Linked DNA regions of Homo sapiens: region 1 is linked to region 2. A link means that fine-mapping ties the variant in region 2 to the expression of a gene that starts in the linked region. Tissue or cell type: tibial artery. Region 2 holds a variant in brackets; the other region holds the start of a gene. All regions are shown on one strand. Distances are between the middles of the regions.

What was found. PIP is the estimated chance that this variant, and not a neighbour inherited with it, causes the effect. A credible set is the group of variants that fine-mapping cannot tell apart.
Region 1: PTPRR starts here. The variant in region 2 is the best candidate, but not a certain one, in a credible set for the expression of PTPRR in tibial artery (GTEx, PIP 0.51).

The regions. Positions count from the first base shown.
Region 1 is chr12:70,919,063-70,923,304 of GRCh38, forward strand. It overlaps PTPRR (protein tyrosine phosphatase receptor type R), which reads right to left and starts at 1,676. Exons shown (of 14, transcript NM_002849.4): 1 at 1,271-1,676. The coding sequence starts at 1,328.
Region 2 is chr12:70,772,121-70,776,362 of GRCh38, forward strand. All of the region lies in intron 2 of PTPRR (protein tyrosine phosphatase receptor type R), which reads right to left. LOC124902960 (a long non-coding RNA gene) reads left to right here. Exons shown (of 2, transcript XR_007063361.1): 2 at 1,317-1,677. Among named protein-coding and RNA genes, the nearest start is that of PTPRB, 140 kb to the left of the region's middle. The variant C/T (reference allele first, on the strand shown) is at 2,108.

The sequences.
Region 1 (4,242 bases), 150 kb after region 2:
GCTCAAAAGATTCATGATACATTTAAATAATAGCGTTAGCTGGAATAAGAAAGTACCATATTTCACTCCTACTATTGTACACAGAGAATAAAATTCACCCACTCTTTTAAAAAAGATACTGCAAGGATTGTAATTTCAGAACAATTATTTTTACTCATTACCCCTAGAACATAGTATACACTCAGCAAATGTTGCTTGAAGGAATGAATGGATATGTGTGATTGGATGAGAAGCACACTCAGGGAAAATGCCTCGTCTCTGGTTGTTACAGGACTACTGCATGGACAACTGCTGTCACAGTAGGGTTTCTAAAATCTCCCTGCCATATTTTATTTTGGTTCATGTGTGTGTGACAATGATAAGGAATTCAGCCTAGCAAGTCTGTCTGCATTAAATAGAGGTGCTATGTATGCAAAAAGCAGGGACACCACATATAATATCTCTCAGGTACTTCCCAAGGTTTGCTTCCTCACGAGACTTGATATTGATTCTGGTGCCTCAAATCTATTTATATTTGGGAGCAGTCTCACTGTTACTCTTGGTTACACCTTATCAAATCTGTCCGAGGGACAGTGCCTAACCCAGGGTTGTCAGCTTTGGAACTGTAATTGTTTTTTTTTTTTTTTTTTTTTTTTTTTTTTTTAATATGCCAGCGGACGCTAGCCACGGTGCTGAAAGAGACAAGAGGATTCTATTTGAAACCTTTTCTTCCTCTTATTGGCTTAGAAAATTCGAGTGACAAGAGCAGGGGCCAAAGGAGCCTGGTGCAGCATCACTAATGTGAACCATGTATTTCGATCTTTTGGGCGGAGATGTGGTCCATCAGGTTACAGCCAATGCCTTCCTATGAGCGCTCGCTAGACCAAGAGACCTTATGAATGTAGTAGCCGCTGCAGTAGAAAAGGTTACATCTAGCAGGATGTCTTATCCCTCTCCTGAAAAATTGACAGTTAAGTGCATAGCCTAGAAACAAGAGCAGGGAATCTAGACGGAGGGGAGGCGAAGGGGGGAGCAAACCTGTATTCATATTGAAAATGTTCACTATTTTCGTATAAAGTAAAGAAAAATCAAGAGCTAATTTTAGGTTAAGTTTTCGGCCTCAGTTTTCCAACAGGTGCACGACTCCCTCACCCCTTCCCTGTCAGGTACTGTCCTGTTTTACCTTTTTAGAAAGGCTTTCTTCGCAAGGCAAGCTTTTCCTAGAGTCCTTAAGCATGTGCAGTTTCCCATCTCATGCACAGCTCCGGCTCTAAGCCTGGCAACCCCTTACCTGCAGCGTGAAGATTAAGGAGCAGGCACAGCGCAGGGAAGCAGACTGCTCTCCGCATAGTGTTTGCATTGAGAGGTGGAGGAGAAACTCCACCACGACCCCACTTCAGGTAAAGTGCTATTAGAAAGAGCCACCGCCAAGGGTCTTCTAGTCTCCGGGATTCAGGTCCTCGGCTGGGGTTTGCAGAGCAGTCAGTCTGTGGCGCCGACAGAAACCAGCACCAGCTTCAACCTCCCTAAGAGAGGGAGAGAGGAAGAGCAGTAGGAGGTTGCGGGTAAGGGGAACAGAAGCGCTCAGAGGCGGCAAATGCCTGGCCTTCTGGACGCCCAGAAGCCAAGGCGGAGACGGCAGGGTGGACTCCGCGCCAGCCCAGCAGCCCAGCAGCAGCGCCGCGGCTACTGAGCATGCCCAGCGCCGGCCCTCACGAGGCAAGGGAATTTCAAAGTGAAATTCCGCTTCTCCGGGTCTTAGCGGCGGCTTGGAGCAGAGTAGGCTCCATCGCTGGGGTGGTGGTTGGGGGTGGGGGTGGGGGTGGGGAAGGGGGAAGTGCGGGGGAGACACTTGCTGTGGTTACTAGGGACCCAGCGTCCATCACAAATCCGAAGGTGGGGTGTAGCTGAGTGAGAGTAGATGGGGGCACGACCACAGGAGTCAGAGGAGGGAGCTGATGACATTGTCAACCATGCCACCCACCCTACTCTTTCCCCAAATCTTGATTTACACGTGGACCGAGCTCACTGCTGGGAATTGGCATTTGCAGATTGACCAGCTTCCCAGGACTCGCCTACAGGAATAGAGGTGTCTTCCACTGCTGAGCATTCTGGCTGCTCGGGGGAAGCGTTCCCAAGGCAGCTTGCTTGGTGTAAGCAGTAACCATGTATCTTGGGGGTGACTTCGTCCTTCCTACAGCTTCCCCCTCTTTGCTTCTCTTTCCACTCTTTCCAGCTCAATGACTGTATTTAAACTTTCTTCTGACTCAAGTCCTCACAGTGACAGAAAGAAGTGAGAAGATACTTTTAGACTAGTAGAATATATCCATGTAATTGAAGCACAAGAAGGCACCTTTTTGTTTCGTGGAGGTAATTAACTTTAGTTTCCCTTTTACTCTTTAAGGTGAAAGATAATGGATCACGTCAGTGCCTGGACTCATCCGGCCCAGCTCTGTGTCTCTAGGGAGGCTACCACAGTCTGCCATTAGATGGTTTTTTATCCCTCCATCTAAGTCTTTGGAGTGTGGAAAGCCTTATTAGTCATGGCTAATTGCTGCTAGTCAAGTCAAGAAGTCCCTCAGCTAGACTTCTCTTTTAACTATCCCAGGGCCTCTGCCCTTTCTGCCTCTGTGTCTTTATGGACACTGTTGCCTCTTTCCCATTTTCCTCCACTTGCACCACCACCACACTAGTTTTCGAAGGTGTAATGTTGGTCTCACTTTTCCAGAAAGCCCTAACTCTAACTAACTCTAGATTACAGTGATCTTTCTCTTCCACAACACTTGTTTAGCCGTGCCTCATATTATTCTTTCAGACAGTTCATTTATCTGTGGTTTGTTCTACAGCACATTGAAGTCTCCATAAGAACTGCTGAGTTTTGTATTCCATTAACTTGAATAAAGTTGTCCTAGCCAAATAATTGGGGCTAACAAGTGCCCATTGAGTTGAGCTGCACATCTCATTCAGTGCTTTCTTTCTCCATCCTCTGTGAATTGAGACAACTAATGGGAAATAGGCTATCCACCAGAGCTTAAATTAGGTGGGACCTTATAAGATCAGAGAGCCCAGGCGGTACCATTTATTTCTTTTATGATTTATGTCATCTTCAGCTCTGAGAGACAAGGCCAGGAAGCACTCCAACAAGTGGGAGAAGGGGACAATGAGATGTACTTTTAATATCTTGACAGGCCTTCTCTGCTGAAAATAGAGACATATCTCCATGTCTAGCCCCTCTCTAGCAACGTGCTCCACCCCCTACTCCCCCATGCGTGTGGCACACTCCATTTCTGTGGCACTATCATTTCATCCCAAACCACTCTAAGCTGCAACCTCTTCTCCTATTCCTGATTCACTGTCCTCCAGTTTGCTTTTCCCGTATCACTTTCTAACAAACCAAAATAATTACTTATAAAATCTATTGTTTAGTATCTATTTCCCTACTCCCCCCCGCAAAACAGAATTTGAGCTCCAATGTTGAAGAACTTTGATGACTTTATTGATATGTCCCAACTCCCTAGAGCAATGCCTCATGCAAAATAGATACTCAAAAATGAATAAATGAAAATGATAGTTGACAAAGTTCAATACTGACAATTAACTCTTTGAAATTCTTACTGAGTCAACCTTTGAGATAATTTATTTAGCATTCTGTAAAGCTTAGAAGAATAACTCTTCTCATCTAACATCTGTTACTAGAAATGCTGCAGGGCTGGAGGTTAGGGAAAAATAATTGTATCCCACTTACAATAGGTCTATTTTTCTTATTTTCTTGTTTCCTAAAATAACTAATTATCAAACTTACATAGATCTCCAAGAATAAAATATACTTACTTATGGTAATGAAACAATGCTGCAGTAATGTTCTGAACCCCTTCCTTTTCCACAGATAATTCCAACATTTATTGGTGGGGCATTTAAAATTCCCATTATTATAATTGACTATGACTTTGCCAAAAAGCATCCTGCTGGCAATGTATTTTGTTCAGGGCTGCAGGTAGCTGAATTGTTAAACTATGCATGAAAATTCCGTTAGCAGCAAAAATTTCCAATTTCCAATTTGGCTGGATATATCATTAGAATAGTTAGTTCAGCATGGTAAAAATAACCCTGAGTGGGCTGTAATTTTGGTGACTAGACATTCATTATTAATTTACTTAGAAATGATAAAGTAACGAAAAAGGTCATATTCCTATGTGAGTCAATCTAATATCATACTTGTAACGGCTTCAATTCACTTTTTCACTAATTGGCTAATTCACTCAT
Region 2 (4,242 bases):
CATCATTAATCATTTGAGAGATACTCAAGGTAGGGAAACCAAATCTTTATGCATTTCTTTTATTCTTATAATACTTAATTCACTAATTTGAACATAGTAGGCTATCAATAACTATTGAATGGCTGCAACATCACCTGTTCTGTAAAGCTAGGCATACTTCTGAGTACACACTTCTCTAATAACGAGATTGGTTTACATGTGCAATCTCCTATAGAGTAGGAACTCTTTAGGGGAACTTCCCTCAGCTTGCTTTAAAAAGAGATTAATACTGTTTCAAGGATTTATAGTCTCAAAAGGAAATACCATAATATATCCTCTATTTTTTACCTGCAAGTATATTCTCTATTTTGTACCTGCAAGTAGGTAATAAATAAGTGATTGGAAACTGGATTAAATGCTCAATGCTATAGGAATCAGAGAGAATTTGGAAAGTCAAAAGAGGTATAGGGTTCCCAGTCAAGATGATGGGCCCAGCTAAAGCTCCAGCCTGCATTTCCACCTTAGGGTCTCTCAATGCTTGCATGGAGGTAGGGGCCCTAAGATTTGGTTAATTTAGGTTAACTGGACTCCTTGTGAAAAATTAAGATCCAGAAAAGGGCAGAATCATTGAAAAAAACTACCTAAGAGAGCCCAGTAATAGGCAACAATTTGCTTCTGGGGAGGAGAAATAAGAATGATGTTGGAGTATATAGAAAGCTATATCAAACACAATCAGTAACACTTTAAAATTTCTTAAAATTTATCTTACTTTATTTTTTTTTAAGCTTAAAACAACAGAAATTTCTTGTCTTGTCATACTAGAGGCTGGAAGTCTGAATCAAAGTGTCAGTGGGGCCATGTTCCCTCTTAAATTTGTAGGGGAGAATCCTTCCTTGCTTCTTCTAGCTTCTGGTGTTTGCCAGCAATCCTTGGGATTCCTTGGATTACAGATATATTACTCTAATCTTTGCATCTGTCATCACTTGGCTTTCTCCTCCCTGTGTCTTCACGTCTTCCCTCTGAGTGTCTGTGTCCAAATTTTCCCTTTTTATAAGGGCCTCCTTATATTGGATTAGGAGCCCACCCTACTCCAATAAGACCTCTTGTTAACTTTTGTTACACCTACAACAACCTTATTTTCAAATAAGGTCACATTCTTAGGTACTGGAAGGCTAGAACTTCAACATATGAATTCTGGGGTGGTGGTGAGGTGGGATGTAATTCCACCTTTAACGAGGAGAAAGTCAGAATTCTGAGGAAAGAAGCTGCTAACTTGTAGCCAGAGAATTGACCAAGAACCTTAGTAATTTTGCACATTTTCTTCTGTTTTCTTTTAGGCTCTGAGTCAATACAAGTAGGAAGTTCAACTGGTTCCCTGGGTGTTCATTCCTGGTTGGAGAGCTGTTTGGGAGGCTGGGAAGGTCCATTAGAAGCATAATTCTATTCCAGAGGTGGCTTGGCAGATGGAGCATATCATGGGTAAAGGCAGTGGTAAAGTCTTGGTGAGGCAAAAATAAAAGAGGTACATGAATCCAGACACAATTTGAAATAGATCTTTCTGTTCCAGGTTAATTTCTCAGCATGTCACAGAAAGCAATTCCTACTAGACCTGAAGAAAGTGGCTTCTCTCTTAACAGAATGTTATCTTCTTCTAGAGAGTAATATGTTTTTATTAAATAAAAAGCATCTAATAGTACACAAGTGTTTGCTACATTATTTTCTGTATTTTTAATAGCCTAAATATGCATCCATTATATAACAGAATGTTTTAATGCAGAAAGTAAGACTTGAAGCCAACCTTAAAGGACAAGTAGGATTTGGAAATGCAGTGATCAGGAAAGTAGCATTATACTGTTAAGCACAATATACGCATCTACCTGGCATACCTGGGAGACTAGAAAAACTCAGTACACCTGGTCATCCTGAGAAACAGAGGCTTCCTTTCATCCGTGGCCTGTTTTCATCTCTGCCAGACTACAGAAGCTGCCATTAAAGATGAGACACTGTATTGGAGACTCTGTCTACTACCCTTCCCTTGCAAGGCCAAAGATGGATTCCTTAGTTTTCTCAAATGGTGAATGAGTAACCTCTGTCTCACCAGCAGTGTTTGTCAGGCAGGGTGAGCTGG[C/T]ACACAGTGTGCCTGAATCCCCAGAGGCAGGATTTGGAGCCAATTGTCTATGCTGGGAACCCACAAGCCCCCTCAAGGGGGTTGTGTACACACTGCAGAACTCAATTCCCAGAGGCATGATTAACTTGAGGCTTGTAACTGTGGAAACAGTATTACAGTTTCAGACTGAAATGGTAAATGGGAAGTGAAATGGGAACTAAAGATTTAAAAATCACTGAAAAAGGCAACTTTGCAAAAATATGAAAGCTGTACAAAAGCTGTACATTTGAAACAGAAATTTAGACTACCCAACTATAGTGAAGAAGTGAGTTGAAGTAATTAGTTGAAATTGAAATCATCTGGTTCATTGCATCAAAACATTTGAATGATTTTCCTCAGTTCTCTGCTTGTCTGAGAAAAGCTGGATTTTGTAGAGCATGCACAGATTTCTGACTCTTCCCCATAAAAATAGTGATGCTAAAATATAGTACAAACAGATATCTATGTATTTGAAGGCCTAATATATGCCAGGCATTATATATGAGTGCAATTTGAGAAAAAGAAAGGATTCTAGATAAAAATGGGAATTTTATTTCAGACAAAATAAAAAATATATGACTTTATATAGTTAGAAGATATATGCTACCTCCTTCTGTCTGGATAGATGCTAGAAATGCACAGCCTCTCCTCATCCTATTATGTGAAACCATAACAAGTATGACAGGATATAAATTTTCACAGCAGTAACAAGGCAACAGCTTTCAAGTTGCTGTACAACATTCTGCGATATATTTTTGTTTGGATGCTAAACCCATTTGGTCATTTTTAACATTTAACATACAAATGATTTAACATTTTAATTTCAAAGAGATTAAAATGTTCTTTCCAAATGCAAATGGTAAGCCACTTTACAACAGTACATAATTTCATAGAGTTACTACATAAGAACAATTGAGTATTTTTATTGTTATTACAAATATATAAACATACAGAAAAAACATACAAAATTCAAAGTCTTCCAATTCTACCTATATTTAAATATACCAGGCCTCTGTCTTGTTAGATTCCTTTGTCAGTTCCCCACTACTGTTCCCCTCCACAAAGGAAATAATATTTTATGACAAGACTTTCTTTCTTTGGTTCCCAGACTGTCCACCAAAGTAGTTAAAGCCTATGGGCCTTAGGTACAAGTTGAGGTGATAGGATTGATGAAATGTAGCACTTTCAGGTACCAGCATTATGTTTGAATTATAAGTATGTGATTAGCTTTTAGCTATTTATTTTGTAAAGGATAATTGAATTATTTTTGCCTAGCAGGGAGGCAGTTAGTCCCCTCCTGAAGTTATTAGGCAGCCTGGACTTTCATTTGGTCATACCCAGTAAGAGTCAGGACCACACCCAGTGGTCCAGTTAGTGGGCAAAGGACAAATGTCCATCTTTCTTCCTAAGAGATGCCTCAAGGCTCCTTAGAGAAGTGCTGTCTCAATTCCCAACAGCCACAAAAGGACCAAAGCTTCCTTTTGGACCAAAAGCTTGCTAGAAGAAATCCATCCACTTCTAACTCAAATGTGCCCCCCAACCCTTTTTTTTTTAACCTGGAATCTTTAACTCCATTCTTGGCCAAGGAGTTGGAATGGCAAGAGATTTCCAGGAATAAAAGCAAAAGGTTCTCTGTTTATGCCTTTGAACTGAGTAGAGAACGCTGACCTGTTAGAGACATTTTATGCTTTCACCCCTTCCCTTCTCACAATTCTCTGCACTTGTCCTCTGCTATTAGTTACAGATTAATTATTTTTATTTCTATATTACACATTTCCACCTTTCTCATGGTCTTACACCTGCTTCCCTCTTCCTGAATGTCCCACTTACACTTCAAACTCAACATTACCCAAACTGAACTTACCTTTCTCCTTCTTCCTATCCACAATCAAATTTGCTTCTCTTTCTACATTCACATAATGGAATGAGCTATCATATTTGGGTATCATCCCGACTCTTCTTTCTTTATTCTTTACACCACCACCACGACATCCAGTGAATAGTCAAGTTCTGTCTATTCTACCTGCTAAATAGTCCTTGAATGTTGAACCCATATTTTCTTTATCTATATTTCCATCATTTTAGTTCAGATCATCACCATGACTAACTGGACTATT